2 separate regions of the Homo sapiens genome follow, and region 2 is linked to region 1. Evidence: fine-mapped expression QTL. A gene starts in region 1. The other region holds a variant in brackets. All regions are shown on one strand. Distances are from middle to middle.

Evidence for each region.
Region 2: its variant is fine-mapped to the expression of MRTO4 in liver (GTEx, PIP 0.94).

What each region holds. Positions count from the first base shown.
Region 1 is chr1:19,248,853-19,253,852 of GRCh38, forward strand. MRTO4 (MRT4 homolog, ribosome maturation factor) reads left to right here and starts at 2,953. Exons shown (of 8, transcript NM_016183.4): 1 at 2,953-3,011. The coding sequence starts at 2,984. EMC1 (ER membrane protein complex subunit 1) reads right to left here and starts at 2,672. Exons shown (of 23, transcript NM_015047.3): 1 at 2,563-2,672. The coding sequence starts at 2,657. RefSeq lists enhancers at 2,585-3,090, 4,907-5,000.
Region 2 is chr1:19,227,937-19,233,458 of GRCh38, forward strand. It overlaps EMC1 (ER membrane protein complex subunit 1), which reads right to left. Exons shown (of 23, transcript NM_015047.3): 14 at 5,000-5,199; 15 at 4,688-4,837; 16 at 3,325-3,486; 17 at 2,908-3,027. All of the region lies in intron 1 of EMC1-AS1 (EMC1 antisense RNA 1), which reads left to right. Among named protein-coding and RNA genes, the nearest start is that of EMC1-AS1, 20 kb to the left of the region's middle. The variant G/C (reference allele first, on the strand shown) is at 3,283.

The sequences.
Region 1 (5,000 bases):
AAATTTTAGTATTGTAGGAAAAAGCTTATAGAATAAAGATATAAGAAAAATATTATTAAGTCAGGCATGGTAGCATATGCCTGTAATCCCAGTTGCTAGGGAGGCTGAGGCAGGAGGCTTGCTTGAGTCCAGGAGTTCAATATCTGCCTGGGGAACATAGCAAGATCCCATGTCAAAAATAAATTTTAAAAATATATTTTTGTACAGCTGTAAAGTCTGTGTTTTATACTAAGTATTATTACAAAAGTCAAAAATTAAAAAAATAAAATGTTTGTAAAGTAAAAAAGTTACATTAAGCTAAGGTTAACTTATTATTGAAGAAATTTTATAAATTTAGTATAGTCTAAATGCACAGTATTTATAAAGTCCACAGTAGTGTACAGTAATGTCCTAAGCCTTTACATTTACTCACCAACCACTTACTGACTAACCCCAGAACAACTCCTAGTTCTGCAAGATACATTCATGTTAAGTGCCCTATACCAGTGTACCATTTTTTATCTTTCATATCCTATTTTTACCATACATTTTCTATGTTTAGATACACAAATATTTACCATTGTGTTACAATTGCCTACAGTTTTCAGTAAAGTAACATGCCGTACAGGTTTGTAGCCTAGGAAGAATAGGCTGTACCATATAGCCTAGGTGTGTAGTAGGCTAAACCATCTAGATTTACATAAGTACATGCTACAACGTTTGCACAAGAGGGCATTTCTCAGGATGTATTCCCATCATTAAGTGATGCATACCTGTATGTCTTCATTTATTTTTCAATCTGAAAACTGTAGGCCAGGTGCAGTGGCTCACACCTGTAATCCCAGCACTTTGGGAGGCCGAGGCAGCCAGATTGCTTGAGCCCAGGTGTTCAAGACCAGCCTGGGCAACATGGCAAAACCCCGTCTCTACAAAAAATACAAAGAAACTGGAGAGGTGTGCACCAGTAGTCCCAGCTACTCAGGAGGCTGAGCTGGGAGGGTCACTTGAACCTGCAAGGTCAAAGCTGCAGTGAGCCATGATAGTACTGTACTCCAGCCTGGGCTACAGAATGAGTCCCTGTCTCAAAAAATTTTAAAAAGTCTTGGCTGGGCGCAGTGGCTCCCACCTGTAATTCCAACACTTTGGGAGGCCTAGGCGGGTGGATTACCTGAGATCGGGAGTTTGAGACCAGCCTGACCAACATGGAGAAACCCTGTCTCTACCAAAAATACAAAAATTAGCTGGGTGTGGTGGCGCATGCCTGTAATCCCAGCTACTCGGGAGGCTGAGGCAGGAGAATCGCTTGAACCCCAGAGGCGGAGGTTGTGGTGAGCCATGAGATCGCGCCATTACACTCCAGCCTGGGCAACAAGAGCAAAACTGTCTCAAAAAAAAAAAAAAAAAAAAAAAAAAAAAGTCTTAAACAGAGTCCTTTTCCCCCCTCATCAGCCTAACCTGGCCCTGGGCTCAGAGCAGAGCTGCCCAAGACACTAAGCAGTTAGGAAATGCCATTCATTCATTCATTCATTCATGAAAATAAAATTAAGAAAATTGCATATATCAAGTATTCTGCAAAATTAGATACACATATCACCCGATATATATGTGTAACATACACATATGACATTGTGAACAGTTGTGCACATCATTAAAAATGTAACATGTTTTATTTGTCACACTGTCTGGCATAACAGGTACTCAACATATATGCGAATCAACTTTTCCAAGACAGAAAATACTTCAGAGGAGGAGAAATCTGACCTGGGCCCTGAAGAATAAAGTGTAAATAGCAATAATAACAGATAACGCTTAATGACTGCATTCAATGAGCCAGGCATTGTGCTAAGTAATTTAATGGGATTGTCTCATTCATTCTCACAAGTACTGTAAGAGATAACGGACTGTTAGTAAACCCATTCTACAGACAAAGAAACCAAGGCACAGAGTGGTTAAGTCACTTTCCCCAAGATCACACAAGTCTTAACTAGTAAAATTCAAACAAAAGCAAGCTACTCCAGGGCCTTAAGGAAGACGTGGGTGGGTGAATGAATGAATGAGTGAATGGCATATTCTAGCTGCTTAGTGTTTTGGGCAATCCTGCTGTGAGCCCAGGGCCAGACTAGGTTGATGAGAGGGGAAAAGGACTCAGTTTAGGACTTTTAAGACGAAAGCTCCTGTTCACTTGCCTACAAGACACCAATTCGAGTAGGAATTAAAGTTCACTGACAGCTTGGCGACCTCTGACACCTGGTAGACCAGAAACCTCACAGTCAAAAAAATCGAACCTGACGAGGGAGGACGGGATCAGTGATCTCTGACCGGCACCCCAAGCATTCCTGGATGGCAGGGCCGGCTTACACGCAAGGATCAGCTTAGAATGACCCCTAACACTTGGTTTAAGGCTCTGCTTCCAACGACTTTAAATCCTTAATAATTTTTTAACAAGGGGCCCCACGTTTTCATTTTGTACTGGGTCCTGCAAATTATGCGGCCAATCCTGTTAAGTGACAACCTTTAGCAGGTAGGAGACAGGTACTGGGGAAACAGCCACTTATCTCTCGAATATGTTCCACACGTACGCACCAATCAAACTTGCCCACTTGGTCTTCGTAGACCGCGGCCGCAGGAATCAGCAGCGTAGCCCAAAGCCAGAAACGAGAAGCCCACTCAGCCGCCATGATGCGAGCGCATGCACCACCCACCGCCGTCCCGGCATGCACCGCGCCGCGGGCTCCGCCTCCGCGGGACCACAGAGCTGGGATAGCGCGCGAGGCCCTCGGTCGGACGGGACGCTCGGGATTCAGGGACTGCCTCGGCACACGGGAAGTTGCCCTACAGGCGCGGGAGAAAGCGCAGGCGGCGGCTTGGCAGGGAGAGGCAGGCTGCAGTGCACATTGGGTCAGGCACACGCGAGGGGCAGCCCCCGAGGGCCGTCCCAGAGTCCCCCGCGCCGCCGGGGTCCTAACGGGGTGCACCGTCTTCCGCCGCACGTGGATTCAGCGCGATGCCCAAATCCAAGCGCGACAAGAAAGGTGGGCGAAGGGGGAGTCGGGACCCTGGGGGGAGCTCCGTGGGCTGGCTACCCAGCCTGCGGTGAGGGCTTCGGGGCGGCGGGGGCGCAGATTGGAACGCCAGGACATCCTCGAGGTGTTCCGCTGCCTCGCTGCGAGCTGGAATGGGGGCTTCGGGGCTGTAAAACCGCCAGAGGTGGCTGACGCCCGGTCGGGTCTGGGGAGCGGAGACTCGTTTTGCCTAGTTTCAGGTGCTCTTGCAAGGCCAACTGGGTCGGGAGGCAGCTCCTGAACACCGCCCCCGGCTATGCCTGCTGCCGTTTCGGCCCACTTTTCCCAACTTCGGCCCTTTCTCATCTTCCTGCGCTCCCGCCACCCTGGCTGCCTTTCCCTTCTTTCAGCACAGGTTTGTTCCCGTGTCTGGCGTTGTGTGTCTGCGGTTGTTTCTGCCTGGCATGCTTACATCTTCGTATGGTTTGCGCCTTCTTAGTTGTCAGTTAATAGGATCCCTCTGAGACAGGGTCTCGCTCTGTTGCCCAGGCTGGAGTGCAGTGGCGCGATCGTAACACTGCAGGCCGGATGCGGTGGCTCACGCCTGTAATCCCAGCACTCTGGGAGGCCGAGGCGGGCGAATCATCTGAGGTCGGGAGTTCCCGACCAGCCTGGCCAATATGGTGAAACCCCTTTTCTACTAAAAATACTAAAAATTAGATGGGCATGGTGGCAGGTGCCTGTAATCCCAGCTACTTGGGAGACTGAGGCGGGAGAATCGCTTGAATCCGGGAGGCGGAGGTTGCAATGAGCCGAGATCGCTCCACTGTACTGCAGCCTGGGCACGACAGAGCGAGACTCCGTCTCAAAAATAAATAAATAAAATAAGTCACTGCAGCCTTGACCTCCTTGGCTTAAGCGATCCTCCCACCTCAACCTCCCGAGTAGCTGAGACTACAGGCGCACGCCACCACACCCAGCTAGGTTTTTTTTGTTTATTTTTTATAGAGAAGACTCAGTGTGTTGCCAAGCTGGTCTCGAACACCTGGGCTCCAACCACCCTCCCTGAGTGCTGGGATTACAGGCGTGAGCCACTACACCCGACTTGCGCACCTCTTAAGAGACCGTTTTTGACCACCTTTGCTGTGGTGGCCTCTCTCTTAACCCGGCTCCCTGGAATATTCAAAAATATTTAGGGGTCTGGCACTTTCTAGGCGTTAGAGGATACAGCAGTCACAAGGAAAGCCTATTTCTTATCGAGCCTAACGTTTTAGGAGAAACATATTCCGCAAAATGCTAAAAATCAGATTGAAAATGGGGTGAAGAGATGTTGATATTTTGTATAGTGTGGTCGGGAAAGGTCTCACTGATGAAGTGACAAATGAGCAGAAAATAAAGAAAGGAAGCGAGCAACCTGTGGAATTGAGCAGCTGTGGAATTATCTGGGAGAATGCTGTTCCAAGTAGAGGGAACCTGAAGTGAAAAGGCTCTGAAATGGGAGCAGATATGACGTGTTTGGGACAAGAGGCCAGTGAGGCTGGAGCAGAAGGAGCCAAATAGAGTTTGGGGAGGGAGTTAGGCAGAGAGGGCAGGACTTCCTCGGCCTTGGCAAGGCATTGGCTTTCCTGCCCAGGTGAAGTGAGTAGCAGAGGACCCATGTGATTTACCTTTACTTATGAAGGGTCACTCTGGTTGCCTTGGTGAGAATAGTTGGGGAAGACAGGGCAGAGGGCAGGAATGGAAGCAGTGAGACCAGCATTAATCCAAGACAGGGTGATGCTGGCTTGAGCCAAAGGTATAACAGTGGAAATGATGGGAAGTGGCCCGCTATATTTCGTTTGCCCTCCTCTGCTCCACTTACCATTGACTGATGTCATTGTCTTTGTCTGTGTGGTACCTAGTTAAGAGGGGCTGAGTGCGGGCAGGTTAAAGAAGAGAGGCCTGGGTCCCTTTGTGAAGGCGCCCGGGGCTTTGCAGTTGGAGTTCTGTTAAGTGTTTCTGGAACGATTTGATTCTGTG
Region 2 (5,522 bases), 21 kb before region 1:
GGCTCACACCTGTAATCCCAGCACTTCGGGAGGCCGAGGCAGGTGGATCACCTGAGGTCGGGAGTTTGAGACCAGCCTGACCAACATAGAGAAACCACATCTCTACTAAAAATGCAAAATTAGCCGGGTGTGGTGGCGCATGCTTTTAATCCCAGGTACTCAGGAGGCTGAGGCAAGAGAATCACTTGAACCCAGGAGGTGGAGGTTGCAGTGAGCCGAGACTGCACCATTGCACTCCAGCCTGGGCAACAAGAGCGAAACTCCGGCTCAAAAAAAAAAAAAAAAAGATAATAAAGCCAGTAGGAAAGGAGGCGAACGCTCAATAGTATCCCGTTGTTTATCTGAGTAGGAAATATGCAAGGAAAATTTACCATTTATTACTAAACTCCAAGATCCCTGTATACTGGGGCCAGCAGTGAATGTCTAAGCTAACAGGGAGCTCAAAACATTTCGTGTATGATTGTTTATGGTCATAGGAAACCAACCAATAAACACTCATGGTTAAATACATTATTATACATCCATCCTATGGAATTATGCGGAGCCCTTGGGGGTGGAGACAGGAGGTAGTTACTGGCAAAGGGCACAAGGGCCTTCTAGGAGCTGGTGCTATTCTGTTTCCTGAAGTGGTCACCAGGTACACAAGTGTATTCCCTTGGTGAGGGTTCACTGAGCCATACCTCATGATTTTGCACTTTTGTCAATATTTTTCTGTAATAAAAAACTGAAGTTGACAAAACAATGAGGTAGAAAACCCATTAAATGAAAAAAAGCAAATTTCATAAGAATAAATATAGGTCAATTGCATGTGAATGAGAAAAAAAAATAAAATGGGCCGGGCGTGGTGGCTCACACCTGTAATCCCAGCACTTTCGGAGCCCGAGGCGGGAGGATCACTTGAGGTCAGGAGTTTGAGACCAGCCTGGTCAACATGGTGAAACCCCGTCTCTACTGAAAATACAAAAATTAGCCAGGCATGGTGGCGTGCACATGTAGTCTTGGGAAGCTGAGGCAGGAGAATCGCTTGAAACCAGGAGGCAGAGGTTGCAGTGAGCTGAGACTGCGCCCCTGCACTCCAGCCTGGGTGACAGAGCGAGACTCTGTCTCTAAAAAAAAATAAATAAAGTATGAGCCACACACGTGTGTCCACACAGCTGTTGATAGGGAATCATAAATACACAAGGACAGTAGAAAGAGGCACAGCAAACTGCTGACAGGCTTTCCACCTGGGGAGGGGAAGACCGCTGGGAATGGGGCTACAAGGGTCTGTTCACATTTTGCTTGTTCACCTCTCTGTATCAATGGACTCTTTTACAATGAGAATATACTCAATGTATTACCTAAATTTTTAAAATAGTGAAAATTATTAATAATAAGCCTTCATTGCCACAACCTTCTTTGAAAACATAAGAACTCACTAAAACATCCCCAGAGAGGAAGGTCACCAAGTGAGGGCAAAGGCAGCACACTCCCTTGTGGTCCCGGACTCGCGCACACAGCTGGCTCACTTCCCACAGACAGCTCTGCCTCCTTTGTCTTCCTTGGTCATTGTTCACTCAGATGATGTCCTCAGGACTCCAGATTCATGACACCCACACTCCAGTTCACTCCCCTGAATCTACAAAACTGTCTCTTTCAAGGTCCTCTTTTTATTAACTCAGAAGGATGATTTTATTTATTTATGTTTTCATTCACAAGGGTAAAGGATGTGTCTTCTGGGCAGACCATTTCCAGTGCTGTTTATGCTAAGGTTAGCTGTTACAAATGTCACAAAAGGGCGCTGCATTTTCAAAACAACAGCACCTCCAACTCAGATGGCATTTACCATGTGCCAGGCAGTTTTATGTGATTTATGTGTTGAATTCTCACAACAACCTTATGAGACAGGTACTTATCACCTTATTTTACAGATAAGAAAACAGAAGACCAGAGCCCAAGGTCACAAAGTTAGTAAGTGACAAACCTAGACTTCCAATCTAGCAAATTGGTTAAACTCTATGCCTCTCAAAAGGCCTTACAGGACAGGATGGGAGAGCTGTTTGTGAGTACACACCACAGAGTACTTCTCCAAACAGTCCTGCTAACAAGGCCATGCCAGCCCCTCGTGAACTTCAGAGCTGGACTTCACAGCCAGCGTGTATTACTGTTTACAAGAGTTGGTCTCAAGTATGTGAGGATTAAAGCAAACTGACCCCCTTTCTAGAAATAAAATTCAAAGCACACATTCCATCACGAGTTGGTCAACATCATCTTCATATAAAAGTACAACTTATTACTCAACCCACATTCCTACCTTCTACCCTCCCAAGAATGGAAAAAAAGTCCCATCTCTCTGCTATAGAAAAATAATGGGGCCAGGCGCGGTGGCTCACGCCTGTAATCCCAGCACTTTGGGAGGCTGAGGCAGGTGGATCACAAGGTCAGGAGTTTGAGACCATCCTGGCCAACACAGCAAAGCCCTGTCTCTACTAAAAATACAAAAAATTAGCCGGGCGCGGTGGCGCACGCCTGTAATCCCAGCTACTTGGGTGTCTGAGGCAGGAGAATCGCTTGAACCAAGGAGGCAGAGGTTGCAGTGAGCCGAGATCGCACCACTGCACTCCAGCCCGGGCGACAGTGCAAGACTCCATCTCAAAAAAAAAAAGAAAAAGAATGTGGAATGAAAGCTCCACAAGGGCAGAGATTTGTTCTACTGTGCACCACTCCATCCACAGCACCTAGAACCGTATCTGCCATGTAGTAGCTGCCCAACAAATATGAACAAATGATTGACTTTGTATCAGACATCAGGATTATGCTAATCTAAGTTTACAGTAGAATGAGTAGCATAATTCACTTCTTAGCCAAATGGCCAGGAAACACCTGCATCTCATCCACAAAGGGTTGTGCCAGGACATGCCTTCCTACCTTTCGAAGCCGATATCCACACAGCCGTCCCTGCTCTGCATCCACCAAATAGAAGAAGATGGAAGGGGCAAGCTCATGTAGCTGTCGCAAGACATTCCGAGTGGCTGGAAAAGCTGTGACCTTGAAAAACCCAGAGAGCCCAAGGAAAGAGTTAGGAAATTTCCCCATCAAAGAGAGCCTTAAGAATAAAACTGCAAATCAGTTGATTTGAACTCAGTTTAGGGTTTACATTCAGTTCTGTTAAGAACCTGAGTTTTCACAAATGCAGACACAGCCATCATTTCTCTTCGGGATGGCCTTAGAGCCCAAACACGTGCTGGGTGCAGAGAGCACTCCATCTCCGGGCCGCTGTGTTTGACCACCTGGCCCCAAACC[G/C]GACTCCGCTAGCATGTTCTCCATCCCCTCTGAAGACAGTACCTTGTATTCATCATCTATCAACAGCAACACCTTGGCGTAGTCTTGATCCATGACTGGGAGAAGCAAGGACTGCAAGATGGGGCGCTTCAGCACTGGGGGAGCTACCTGACTCCACTTCCCAAAAATGGGATTGAAGACATACAGAGAACTCATTCCCGACTCCTAAAATGAGCAAACTGTCAGGCTCCACCAACAAGAAAAGACTGCAAATCCTAGGGATAGACCTGAAGAGCTGGGACTCCAGCTCAACAACTGTGGGGGTTCTCTAGTCTTTGCCCTCTTTGTGGAAAATAAGTTCTTGGCTGTAGGTGAATAGTCCCCTAGGCTAACGTCACAAAGAAAAAAGTCAAACTGTCTCTGCCAGTTCTTTTTCGTTTGAGACAGGGTCTCTCTCTATCACCCAAGCTGGAAGTACAGTGGCATGATCAAGGCTCACTGCAACCTCTGCCTCCCAGGTTCAAGTGATCCTCCCACCTCAACCTCCCAAGTAGCTGGGACTACAGGCACAAACCACCACACGTGGCTAATTCTGTTTTTATTTTTTGTAGAGAGGGGTTTCACCATGTTGCCCAGGCTGGTCTCGAACTCCTGGACTCAAGCAATCCGCCCTCCTTGGCCTCCCAAAGTGCTGAGATTATAAGCGTGAGCCACCGCGCCTGGCTGCTCTGCCAGTTCTAAACAAGAACTAATAAAAAAGTCAAGTAACAATTCAGCAACCTGGCCGGGCGTGGTGGCTCACACCTGTAATCCCAGTACTTTGGGAGGCCGAGGCAGGTGGATCATCTAAGGTCAGGAGTTTGAGACCAGCCTGGCCAACATGGTGAGACCCTGTCTCTACTAAACATACAAAAATCAGCCGGGCATGATGGCGTGTGCCTGTAATCCCAGCTACTCGGGAGGCTGAGGCACAAGAATTGCTTGAACCTGGGAGGTGGAGGCTGCAGTGAGCCGAGATCGCACCAGGCAGCCGTTCCAGGAAAGTGTCTACCAAGCCCGCCTTCTATGCTAGAATGAATACACAAAAATCCATTCTAATTCTGGGAAGACACAAAAATATCTTTGTGTCCTGCTCTTCCTCAAAGAGAGAAGAGAAAATAGCCACTCAGCAACCAACAGCCAATGTTTAGAAAAGAGGAGAGCTGGCTCCCTACATAGCTGGTGAAGTCACACCCACTTTCTAAACAATTCCACATCAGTGCTGGATGGTTCCTCCACCCATGCATGAAACTAGAAGAAACAGAGTTCTAACCCCTGAATGTTCCTCATTAACTCACACAATTCCAAGGGCCTAGGAGCAATTTAAGTTACAAAATAGCAAAAAAGCCACACTGAGTCTGGCTCAAGTCAGAGCTGGATGCCTCACCTTGTCCTTCACCAGCAGGGTGCACTGTGGGGGATGGGGGAAATGAGCAGTAGTTCTCTGGACCATCAGTTTAAAGGAGGAGTCTGGCTTGACATTGGGTAGATACTGTTTCCACAGGATGGTGCCAGAGCTGCTCTCAATGCCAAAAAGCTGCAAGATAAACAAATACTTGGCTCACTACTAGAAAGAGAAACCAAAGAACTGAGTCTGTCCTTGAAAACTAGAACCAGTGTTATCCCTCACTGAAGGCTTTTTGTTCCTCACCCTCAGAATTTGAAAAGGTTCAGTAACTGGAGCTTAAACCCCACTCACCTTGCCTGAGGCTGTTACCATCACCATCATCTTCTGGAGGTTGAATTCATCTCTGGCCAGGGTGTCAATGTTGATCTCATTCTTAATCTGACTCCGGGGCTTCCGAGCATCATAAAACATTTTCCAGAGGTGGGAAGTCCATGCTTGCAGCAGGATAAGCTGAGACGAGAGGCGTTTCAGGAACATCCCCAGCAAGCCATCTGGTGTAAAGGAAAAGTAACATACTCTACATCAGACTAGGGGTCCATAAGGAGGTACATGATTTTCCTAATGAGGGATCTCTGCCTCTCCTCTGGAGCAATAAAGTCCACACTCTAGGCCACAAGCCCAAAGGGCAGTCCTGTATCTGATGCCCAAAGTCTCACACTCAGGTGAGGCTCATGCAGGAGCTTCCAAAAACTGCTTAACTGGCTCTTAACAACTAAACCCAGCTGGAATCTTGGAATAGGAGACTAAGAGGTCAGGGATCAGGCATGCAGGAGACAGCCATGCTGTGAATGTCTCCACCACAGCCCCACATCCA